Linked DNA regions of Homo sapiens: region 2 is linked to region 1. The links come from fine-mapping of genetic effects on gene expression. A gene starts in region 1. The other region holds a variant in brackets. All regions are shown on one strand. Distances are from middle to middle.

Region 1 (5,444 bases):
AGAAGTTTGAGGCCTCAGATCTTAACTCCCCTAATGGTAGTGGGTGGGAAGTGATTCTTTAGATAATTTGGTTTCTCAGATCAAGATGGCAACTTCCTGATTGTTCCTTGCTGTTTATCAGGCTCTTTCTCAAGGGAATCCACACTCTTGGGAGATCTTATCTCATCCCTCTCCCTGCCTCCTTGCTAGCCTGCAGTGGTGGAGGAGAGAGGCTTTCAAGGTCTAGGAGACATAGGCTAGGGCTTCTTGGTAAAGGTTCAAACTCAACTCTTCAGTCCCCAAAGCCTTCCACATTAGTGTTGCAAGCTAGGGTCAGGAATGCCCAGAATCATAACAGTATTATTATTGCTTATTTTGATGATTCCTTTTTAAAGATAAAGAACGTAGGGCCCAGGGAGTTCAAGCTACTTACCAAAGGCAATAGCTGACAAGTGACGCAGCTGGATCAGAATCTAGGTGACTGACTTCAAATTCCACTGCATTTAGGCAGAAAATCAGAAGGTGACTCTGGGAAAGAAGCATTTACTCTAAGGGCTTTGTGTGGCTTGACAGAGGAGTGGCAGGAAGATGTTCATCTGTTTGCCTCAGAATGAAGCTGCTTGGTGTCAGAACCAGTGTACGGGGAGGCATCCTGCTCACACAGCCTTGCGGAGAAGCAGGAGAAGGCCCCTTGTTTAGGGTTGGCACCAAAGATAAAATACAAGGAGTGAAGAGAGAAGCCCTTCTGCCTTCTCTGCTTTCTGGATAACTTGACATCTTTAGGAACAATCCTAAATCTTGGGCCATGCTGGGGTGGAGCACCCAGTGACAGAGACAGAGCAGTACACCAGAGTGCTGAAGGGTCCCTGTTTTGTTTTCCCCTTGAGCCACATTCTGAGTAGAACTGATGTACTCTCTGTGACTGTTTAATAGATGACAACAAAGACAGAAATAATCCCGAATTAGTAGATGACCTAAAATTCATGGCTAGTGGTTTTGGGGTATAGCTGAATCCACCCCCATCATGCACACAAAATGTTCCTCCATGCTAATCCCTCCCTCCATCCCAGCCCTGGAAAGCTGCCTGTGGGCTGGGGCCCAGCTAAGGTATCAAAGGGAGGGAGTCACAGAAAATACAGATGGACAGCTCATTGGCTCACTCATTCATTCATCAGACTTTTTTTGAGCACCAACTAGGCACTATGCTAGGTACTGGGAATTCAAAGTTAAAAGAAAAAGTCTCTGTCATCCATTCATTCTGGGTCGGATGGAGAACACATGGAAACAGGTTCACAATACACTACAGTGTGGGGAGACCTATGGACTGGTGTGCCAGTGGCAACGGAATAGAATTGCACCCAACCAGGGCATCACGGAAGGCCTCATGGAGGAAGGGACTCTGCACTGGTTAAGTTGGAGCTAGCTAGGGAAAAAGGAGGATGGATGGGGGAGGGTTTTTCAGGTCAGAGGAGAGGCTCAGGCAAAGACTCAGAGACAAAAGAACACGTGGGACATCTGGGGGAAGTGTGGGACTGTTTGGCCGAGCTTGGGAGTCAGATAGGTGTTAGGCAAGGGCAGAAAGAAATGAGCCCCTGGATGCCATGTAAGAGTTTGAATTTGACCTTGACTTTGAAGGACGATAGGCAGAGGAACGTCATAATTGGAGTAGTGTGTTATAAAGTTGCCATATGGAGAGTCTGGGACATTCAACAGTCCTTATGGCCAATTCTAACCATCCATGAGATCAGCTGTGCTTAAGGCAAGCAAATGCAATGGCCCAATGCTTTAATGGGAGGCTGCTGATAGACATGGTGAGGCGGGGGACCTGGACCCACCTCTGCCAGGCTCTGCAAGTGCAGGCACAGTCTCTGTACCAGGCTGATCCCAGCCAAGCCCTGAGTCAGTGTTCTTGCTTTGGTTCCTTTTCCTCTAGTTCCAGGAGCTGCAGCTAGCAGCCGGCCGGCATGGGGATGACCTGAAACACACCAAAAATGAGATCTCAGAGCTGACCCGTCTCATCCAAAGACTGCGCTCGGAGATTGAGAGTGTGAAGAAGCAGGTGAAGGGGACTGGAGCCTTCCTTACTCACTCCTAAGGGAGGGGTGAACTGCTTAGCACCCCCTGCCCCCTCCTTCTCTTGAGCATCCATTTCAGAATCCCCTTCTTCAAATGGAGGTCCTGCTCTCATCCCTCACCCTTAGCTCCCATCTGAAGTTTGGAACAATTGCAGATTATTTTCATAAAGCTGTGGGGCCCAGCGTAGCAAGCCTCTCAGTCTCAGGTTGACAGGACTCCACCTGGATGTGGCTGGGTCTCTGCTCCAGGACATGGGGCAGGACAGAGGAGGGCTCAACCATTGAGAGCATGGGAGAGGTGAAGCGAGGCCCAGGGAGGAACTCAGGGAGAAATGCTACCTCCTGACCCCAGTGTGCCAACCTGGAGACGGCCATCGCTGACGCCGAGCAGCGGGGGGACTGTGCCCTCAAGGATGCCAGGGCCAAGCTGGATGAGCTGGAGGGCGCCCTGCAGCAGGCCAAGGAGGAGCTGGCACGGATGCTGCGCGAGTACCAAGAGCTTTTGAGCGTGAAGCTGTCCCTGGATATTGAGATCGCCACCTACCGCAAGCTGCTGGAGGGCGAGGAGTGCAGGTGGGTGGGACCGAGGGACTGGAAGAAACTGCAAGTCTCCACCTTAAAGTTTCCCAGAGTGTGGTTGGGGGCGGGGGGGAGGGGGCGGCGAGCTGGCGATGTGTTTACTTCACCCACAAGCATAGTTTCAAACAGCATCCTGCCAGATAATGTGACAGCAATTTCCTTTACAGTTCTCTTTTGACTCTTTGGAGAAAGTCTTAGCTGGGTGCTGTTGTGTCTTTAACACCTCTCAGATGGCCAGGCGCAGTGGTTCGTGCCTGTAATCCCAGCACTTTGGGAGGCTGAGGCGGGTGGATCACCTGAGGTCAGGAGTTTGAGACCAGCCTGGCCAACATTGGAGAAACCTCGTCTCTACTAAAAATACAAAAGTTAGCTGGATGTGGTGGTGCATGCCTGTAATCTTAGCTACTTGGGAGGCTGAGTCAGGAGAATCGCTTGAACCCAGGAGGCTGAGGTTGCAGTGAGCTGAGATCCTGCTACTGTCCTCCAGCTTGGGTGACAGAATGAGACTCCATCTCAAAAACAAACAAACAAACAAACAAACAAACAGACAAAACACAAAAACACCTCTCAGACACTTACAAATATCCCCTATTGATAAAGAGACAGTAGATCTCAGGTGCAGCATCTCTGGGAAAATAATAGCATTATTTAGCCCAAAAGTTTTAAATTGTTTTCTTTTCATTATATTTATTTTTACTGCTACTTTTTTTCTTATTTGGTTAGGTAATAATACTGGTTTCTATTTACCCTGGTGATAAAAAACTTCTTTTTAAAAGAAATGCACTTTTGTCGTAAAAGGCAGAGTCAATTAAAAATACTAAATATCTAACAGTACAAGTCAAACATGGTCCTAGCAACAGTCAGAAGGGTGGCACACGAAGCATGAACATTTGAAAAACCCTGTTCTAACCAAGCACCATTTTATAACTGAGACCTGGAGAGAAGTCACTTGCCCCAAAATCATACAGTTCGTTCATTAGTAGCAACTCCTGATCCTGATCTTTCCACATATGTATTTATTCAGACAGCTGCTCACAGTAGTAAAGAAATGGGTTCAAGAGAAACCCTGCAGGAGGGACCTTGGGGGTGGTAATGTTGTTGGGGGTTCCAAAGTTGCAGGTTCCACATCTCTGCAGTGGGAAGAGTAGATTGAGGAGCGAGAGGGAGGGCTTAGAGACATGCAAGGGCAGCCAGTGCCATCTGGCAAGTGTGGGGTGCGTGAAGGCTGAGCTGGTCTGGCTGGGGATCCCCAGCCTGTGTTTAGGCAGTGAGGGCCACTATGGGAGTCCACGTGATTCAGACTCTCCTGTGCTTTTCTCTCTTGCAGGATGTCCGGAGAATATACCAACTCCGTGAGCATTTGTGAGTATTTCATGACTCTGAGGGAATACTTTTAGTCCATCAACAAACACAAAGTGGGTGGGTGTCCACCGCCCAGCCCCCTGAGGAAGAGCTTGGCTCTGCCTGTTGACCACTTGGTCACATACTCACCTTCCTTGCTGAGACCTGCGGCCTCCCCATTCAGAGCTACTTCTTCCAGGTGGAGCTAGTGCCCAGGACATTCTGATACTGCACACTAGCCTCTTTCATAGCAATCTCCTGCCTGCTGTGGTGAAACTCTCAGCCCCTCCCCTCTTCTGTCACCCCCACACCGGCTCTCCTGCATGAAGGAAACTGAGCACAGAGTGGTGCCTCCTCAATGGGAGTGGAGACTGGTGTGTGGACCACTGTGCAAGCCAGTTTAATGCTGGCCCCACAGGGTTTGGCAGTCTCTTTCTTATAGTGGGACCAGCAGAAACTCCCTAATTTTAACAATCAGGAAATTCTTTTGAAAAATACTCAGAAGGTATTGTAAAGCTAAATGCAAGAACCTGCTGGCTTATCTGATGCTCAAGCATCATCTGTCCCCTGGGGAAAGCCCTTGCTACTCCTGTTTGTTCATAGAATGACAAGGTGACTGACTTGGGAGTCTTGCAGGACTGGGGCTATTCTTCCCGCGCTTGAGTTGCTCAAATGAACCCAAGTTCATGGTTGATGGGAAGTGTTTGCTTAAGAAGGAGGTATTTAAGCTAGTGGGGCTGGGAGGTTGGAGGGGGACTTAAGGCCACCTCTGTCCTGGGATATACACTGATCACTCGTCCCTCCCTCCTCTGCAGCGGTCATCAACAGCTCCATGGCCGGGATGGCAGGCACAGGGGCTGGCTTTGGATTCAGCAATGCTGGCACCTACGGCTACTGGCCCAGCTCTGTCAGCGGGGGCTACAGCATGCTGCCTGGGGGCTGTGTCACTGGCAGTGGGAACTGTAGCCCCCGTGGGGAAGCCAGGACCAGGCTGGGGAGTGCAAGTGAATTCAGGGACTCCCAGGGAAAGACCTTAGCTCTAAGCTCACCCACCAAAAAAACCATGAGATAAAAGTGCAACACAGCCCATTTCCCAGTAGTCTGCCTTGCCCTGGCAGACTGCTCCGGACTCTTCTAGGAAATTCCTCTGTCTCATTTGTCCTCATCTCCTTCTTGCTTTGCTTTGCTGTGGACCTCTCCTCCTTCTCCTTGACCTCTCTGCCTCAGTCTTTGTTAATGTTGAATCAGGATTTGAGAGCTGGAGCCCATCTTTCTGCCTCCATCCAAAGAGGCCTTTTAACTCAGCCTCCCCTTCTGGAAGAAGACTTGGCCTTTTCTCTGCCTGCATGTCCCTGTGCAGAGGAAGGCTGTCTCTCAAGGGTAACCCCAATCTGCCTGTGCTGCTCTTTCATACCCTGTCTCAGTAACTATTTGGCCATGTGCTCCCTGGGTACACAAGTTTTCAGATCT
Region 2 (5,216 bases), 25 kb before region 1:
CAAGTTCAGGAAGTTTCCCTATACTCCCAGTGTACTGGGTGTTTTTATCTTGAGTGAACATTGATTTTTTTCAAATACTTTTCAACATTCAGATGATCATATAACTTTTCTCCCTCATTCTGTTAATATAGTGAATTTCATTGATTAATTTTCAAATGTTAAATTAATCTTGTATTCCTGGAATAAACTCCATTTGGTCATGCTATATTATTATTATTATTATTATTATTTATTTATTTTTTTTGAGATGAAGTCTTGCTCTGTTGTCATGCTGGAGTACAGTGGCACAATCTTGGCTCACTGCAACCTCCGCCTCCCAGGTTCAAGTGATTCTCTTACTTCAGCTTCTTGAGTAACTGGGACTACAGGCATGTGCCACCATGCCCAGCTAATTTTTGTATTTTTATTAGAGAAGAGGTTTCATCATATTGGCCAGGATGGTCTCGATCTCTTGATTTCGTGATCTGTCTGCCTCGGCCTCCCAAATATTAACCTTTTTATACATTGCTGGATTCAACTTGCCATTTCATTAAATATTTTTTTATCTGTCTGGAGGAAGGAACATCTTTGTCTAATAGTCACGAATGCACTCTATAGGCTAGCAGTAGCCCTGAGACGAGACAGAGTGACAAAGTGTGAAAAGAATGAACTTTTACACTGTGCTCTTATACTGTGTTCTATTGTTTGAGTTTTTGTACAAAGCATGTATTTCTTTTACAAAAACTAAAAAGATTTATTTTTTTCAAGTAGCCATCGTGGCAGAGCATTAGAAGCAACCACAGGTTTCTGTTCAGGGTCTTAAGGAAAATGAAGCCAGCAGCCTGCTGAAACAGCTGGGGCCGGAGTGTGCACAGGAGAGGGTTCCAGGACGCACGGGGAGGCTGGGAGCAGAGAGAGGGCTTGGGGACTCCTTATAGCAGACTTTTGCTTTGCCTATTTAGACTGGAAATTTCCTAAGAGATAGAAGAACACTTTCTCAAGTTCATGACCTTGACAGAAGTTTATCTGGGGTCAAATATGCAGAGTACTCAAGAAAAATTATCAGAAATTTTTAAGAAGGTGATGACTTTCACTAGAATCCCAGAATTGCCTGAAAAGGAGGAGAAAAGAAATAGTGGAGACTGTACAATTATATTCTGTCTCGGCCTGGGCACCCACCCTCCTCCTGTCACTTTTGTCATAGTTAATCTCGTTAGCCTTGGCCTGTCCTGTCACCTTGGTCTCACTCTCCCCCTTCTGGTTTTCTGTGACCCCTGCTAAGACCTCTTTCTCAACTCTCTTTAGTGGGGCTAGTGAGGCTCCCACCTCATCCCTGATAAGACTGCCCTCTCCCTGCTTCCTCTCTTCCCCTGAAACCTGCTCAAAGTGCACTACCTCCAAGCAGGGGTCCCAATTCATGTCTCCTCAGCATTTATGGGCCCAACTCAATATTTCTGTATTGAGCTCTTGAATCAGTTGGCCTTGGTTCAAATCCTGTTTCTAATTCTTAACTAGTTGCGTCATTTGGGCAAAGTGCTTCATCTTTTAAACCTCAGTTTTCACTACTAAAAAAATGAAGATAATAACAGTGGCTGCCTCATAGTACTGTTGTGGAGATTAAAGGAGATTATCTTTGTAAAGCACTTACAGTTGTGAAACACAATAATCGGGCAATACATGATACCCGTGCTGTTGCTGTTGCTGTTGCTGCTGCTGGGAAAAGATGTGGACTTAAACATTTATCTTTGTAAAATTTCAGTGGTAAAAACTAACATTTATTTCCACTGCCCCCCCACCCCCGCCAACCCCGAACAGTTTGTATAACACCTTGGTTATGTAGCAAGGACAGGTGTCATTATCACCACATTTGACAGATAGCAAAGCTAAGGCTGAAAAGTCCACAATCACAAAACTAGGAAGTGGTAGAGCTGGCATTGGAAACCACGGCTATGGCTCTTGCATTTCACATCATTTCCACCACATATCCTACCACGTGTTCTTCCTTTGCCTGACTCTCTCCCCAGTGGCCGGGTTAGGGGCACTCAGACAGTGGGTGGGACCGCAGGGTAGGGCCTGGCTAAGCAGGAAGGGTACAGGATCATAGCATGGGGAAGACACCTCTGCTTCTCACCTGGATCCAGAGAAGGAGACTAGCTGAGAGGGGCTGTTGGGCCCTGCCAGGCACGCGTGTCATCTCACAGGTGACTTTACAGGTATGCGGACTCAGGGGAAAGAAGAGAAGGAGGGGCCCAAGACAAGAGTAAGTCTGCACTTCTCTGACCTGGATAAAACATATACAAAGAGAATCCTGAGCCCAGAATATTCTCTCAGGCAGCTGGCCAAATAGTTATGGAGTGACCGAAAGAAGGACCCAATGTTCTTGGCCTGCTTGAATGTTAAAAAAAAAAAAAAATTTATTTCCATAGGTTTTTGAGGAACAGGTGGTATTTGCTTACACGAATAAGTTCTTTAGTGGTTATTTGTGAGATATTGGTGCACCCATCACCCAAGCAGTATACACTGAACCTGATTTGTAGTCCTTTATCCCTCACCCCCTTCACACCCTTTCCCCCTGGGTCCCCAAATTCTGTGTGTCATTCTTATGCCTTTGCATCCTCACAGCTTAGCTCCCACTTCTGAGTGAGAACATACAATGTTTGGTTTTCCATTCCTGAGTTACTTCACTTAGAATAGTAGTCTCCAGTCCCATCCTGCAAATGTTGTCAATTCATTCCTTTTTGTGGCTGAGTAGTATTCCAATATATATATATATATCACAGTTTCTAAAAGAAGACCTGCTTCACCTCCCCATAGAGGAGTTTGAAGCCTTATGGGGCTTGATTGCTTCTGTTGTAAAAATTATACCTGCTTATTATTTTAATCTTGGAAAAATAGAAATATAGAAAATTTAAAAAATTCACCACTACACAAAACAACTACTGTTAACACTTTGATGTATTTTCTTTTTGAACATGCTTTTCTAAAGTATTTAGCTTTAGTCAGTTAAACAATATTTCTCTGCTCATCCTATACCTCCAGTCTTATCCTAGGC[C/A]TTCTTTTCTGTGCCTAGGATTTAGTGGTCATATTGATTATTCAATTTTGATTTTTCCTTTTCCCACTTAACATTAAAACAGAATTTTTTGGTTTGCATAAGCCCAGTAATTTTTATTAGTTATGTAATATTTCATTGGTGGACACAGTTAACTCCTAATCCCTTTTTTGGACACTTGTTTTGGGAAAATATATACAGGATACTGTGTATATTTTTGGTAGGGAGGTGGAAGTAACTCTCACCAACTGTAGAAAATTCCATTTAGTATGTGTCTCTAAATCACTTTCCTTTACAGATATCAGTTTCTAATTCATCAGTGTCTCTGTCCTAAAGCTTTAGGAAGATGTATCTCTGGTTTTAATATCACTCTGGTAGAAACTAAAAGTGCTGAAATAGCAACAATCTCAGAAAATACCCGACCTGATAGCTTTTTGGGCATAATCATACACACCTCATATTGCCTAGGTCAGCAGATAGTTGACAGGTAGACCATAATAAGAAAACCCTGCTAACTAAGCAATAGTTACTAGACTGACTGTTCCCAAGTAGAAGGCTGTATTTATTTTTTTGTCACTTTTAGTGTCAGGGTAGCCAAACCCATGAATTTGTCTTTGGCCCACTGCCAGCTCCAGGAGAGGTATAAGGTGACACCTCAGCATTCTGGCAGGGAAACATGGAGACACCTTCTTCCCACCTCTCTATGTCACTCACTGCCTTGGAGTCACTGTGAGCAGGCAGGTGTATGCTTGAGGTGCCAGAGCACAGGCTTTGGTAGTGGCTGGGTCATGCTGCTGGGAGGGTGCCAGAGACGAGCAGCACAGCCTTGGCAGAGGCTGCCACTCTTGTGGAACAGCACAGAGGGGCACGAAGCCAAGGCTATGCTGAGCCAGGCGGTTATAGCAGCTGGAGTCTCGTTAGCCCTGCGGGGAGAAAGAGCATCTCCATCATCATGGCTGGAGGCCGGGACCATGGAGGCAGACAAAGGAGCTATGGAGGTGGACAGTTTGGGGTGGGAAGCCTAGCAAGGAGGGCTTTGGTCTTGACAGTGGTTTTGGGGAGCATGGGTCTGTAGGTTCTCTGGTCTGCCCTGGAGGCATCCAGGAAGTTGTGATAAACCAAAGCTTGTTGGAGTCTCTGGATGTGATGATTGACACTGAGGTCTAGGAGGTAAAGTAGTAGGAGCAGGAGCAGATCAAGAAACTCAACAAGTTTTCCTTCTTCATTGACAAAGTGAGTGCCCATGCTTGGAGGTTAGAAAGCCGGAGCTGGATAACTTGAGGGACGTTCGGAAAAGGCCTGTTTGCCGTGATGGAAATGTAGCCTGTGGCTACGGTATTGGACAGTGCAGGTCCAGATTATCTGAGGCCAACCACTTTAGTCCCTATCTCTAGAAACTGGCCCTGGTGAAAGGCGCACACTTTGTTTTTCATGTTCTCCAAGCCTCCCCCAGGAGACTGTGTCTGAGCCTCAGCAAATAATAGGGTTAAACTACTTCTGTCACAGCCTGTGGGAATTAATGCCACACTGGAATCACTTGTCACTCTTGCCAGGCCAGCAGGGACTTCTGAAGTCCTCTATGGCTGTCCTCTGGGGCTGAGCCTTTCAAGTTCCTATTTCCAGGTACAGTTCCTGGAGCAGCAGAACCAGGTGTTGCAAACCAACTGGGAGCTGCTGTGGCAGCTGGATGGCAGCTGGATGGCAGCTAGATGGCAGCTACTGCTGCACCACTAGCCCAGAGCTCATCTTCGAGGGCTACATCAGCAACCTCAGGAAGCAGGTGGCCCAGGTCATGGCAGAGAAAACCAGGCAGGAAGTAGAGCTCAAGAACACTCAGGACTCGATGGAGAAATACAAGAGGAAGTGAGTGAGCCTGAGGTTGGTAGGACAGCTGGTATTCGGTCCCAGATCTCGGTCTGAAAGAAGTGCAATGGCAGAGAATTAGCCTCTCCAGCCAGGAATCCTTGGGATATCTTTCTGTTTGTTTTCTTTTTGTGAATCTATTTCTTGTGGATGTGCATTCAGGGGTGTAAGAAATACAGGGAAAAGGGACTATCTGCAGACATAACAATCTTCTTTTTTTTTTTTTGAGACAGAGTCTTGCTATATCCCCCAGGCTAGAATGCAGTGGCACGATTTTGGCTCACTGCAACCCCTGCCTCCCCAATTCAAGAGATTCTCCTGCCTC

Evidence for each region.
Region 2: its variant is fine-mapped to the expression of KRT73-AS1 in whole blood (TOPMed, PIP above 0.99).

Annotation. Positions count from the first base shown.
Region 1 is chr12:52,607,798-52,613,241 of GRCh38, reverse strand. KRT73-AS1 (KRT73 antisense RNA 1) reads right to left here and starts at 3,391. Exons shown (of 3, transcript NR_126005.1): 1 at 1,815-3,391; 2 at 413-901. KRT73 (keratin 73) reads left to right here. Exons shown (of 9, transcript NM_175068.3): 6 at 1,913-2,038; 7 at 2,407-2,627; 8 at 3,961-3,995; 9 at 4,790-5,444. The coding sequence ends at 5,046.
Region 2 is chr12:52,633,137-52,638,352 of GRCh38, reverse strand. It overlaps the pseudogene KRT128P. Among named protein-coding and RNA genes, the nearest start is that of KRT2, 16 kb to the left of the region's middle. The variant C/A (reference allele first, on the strand shown) is at 3,032.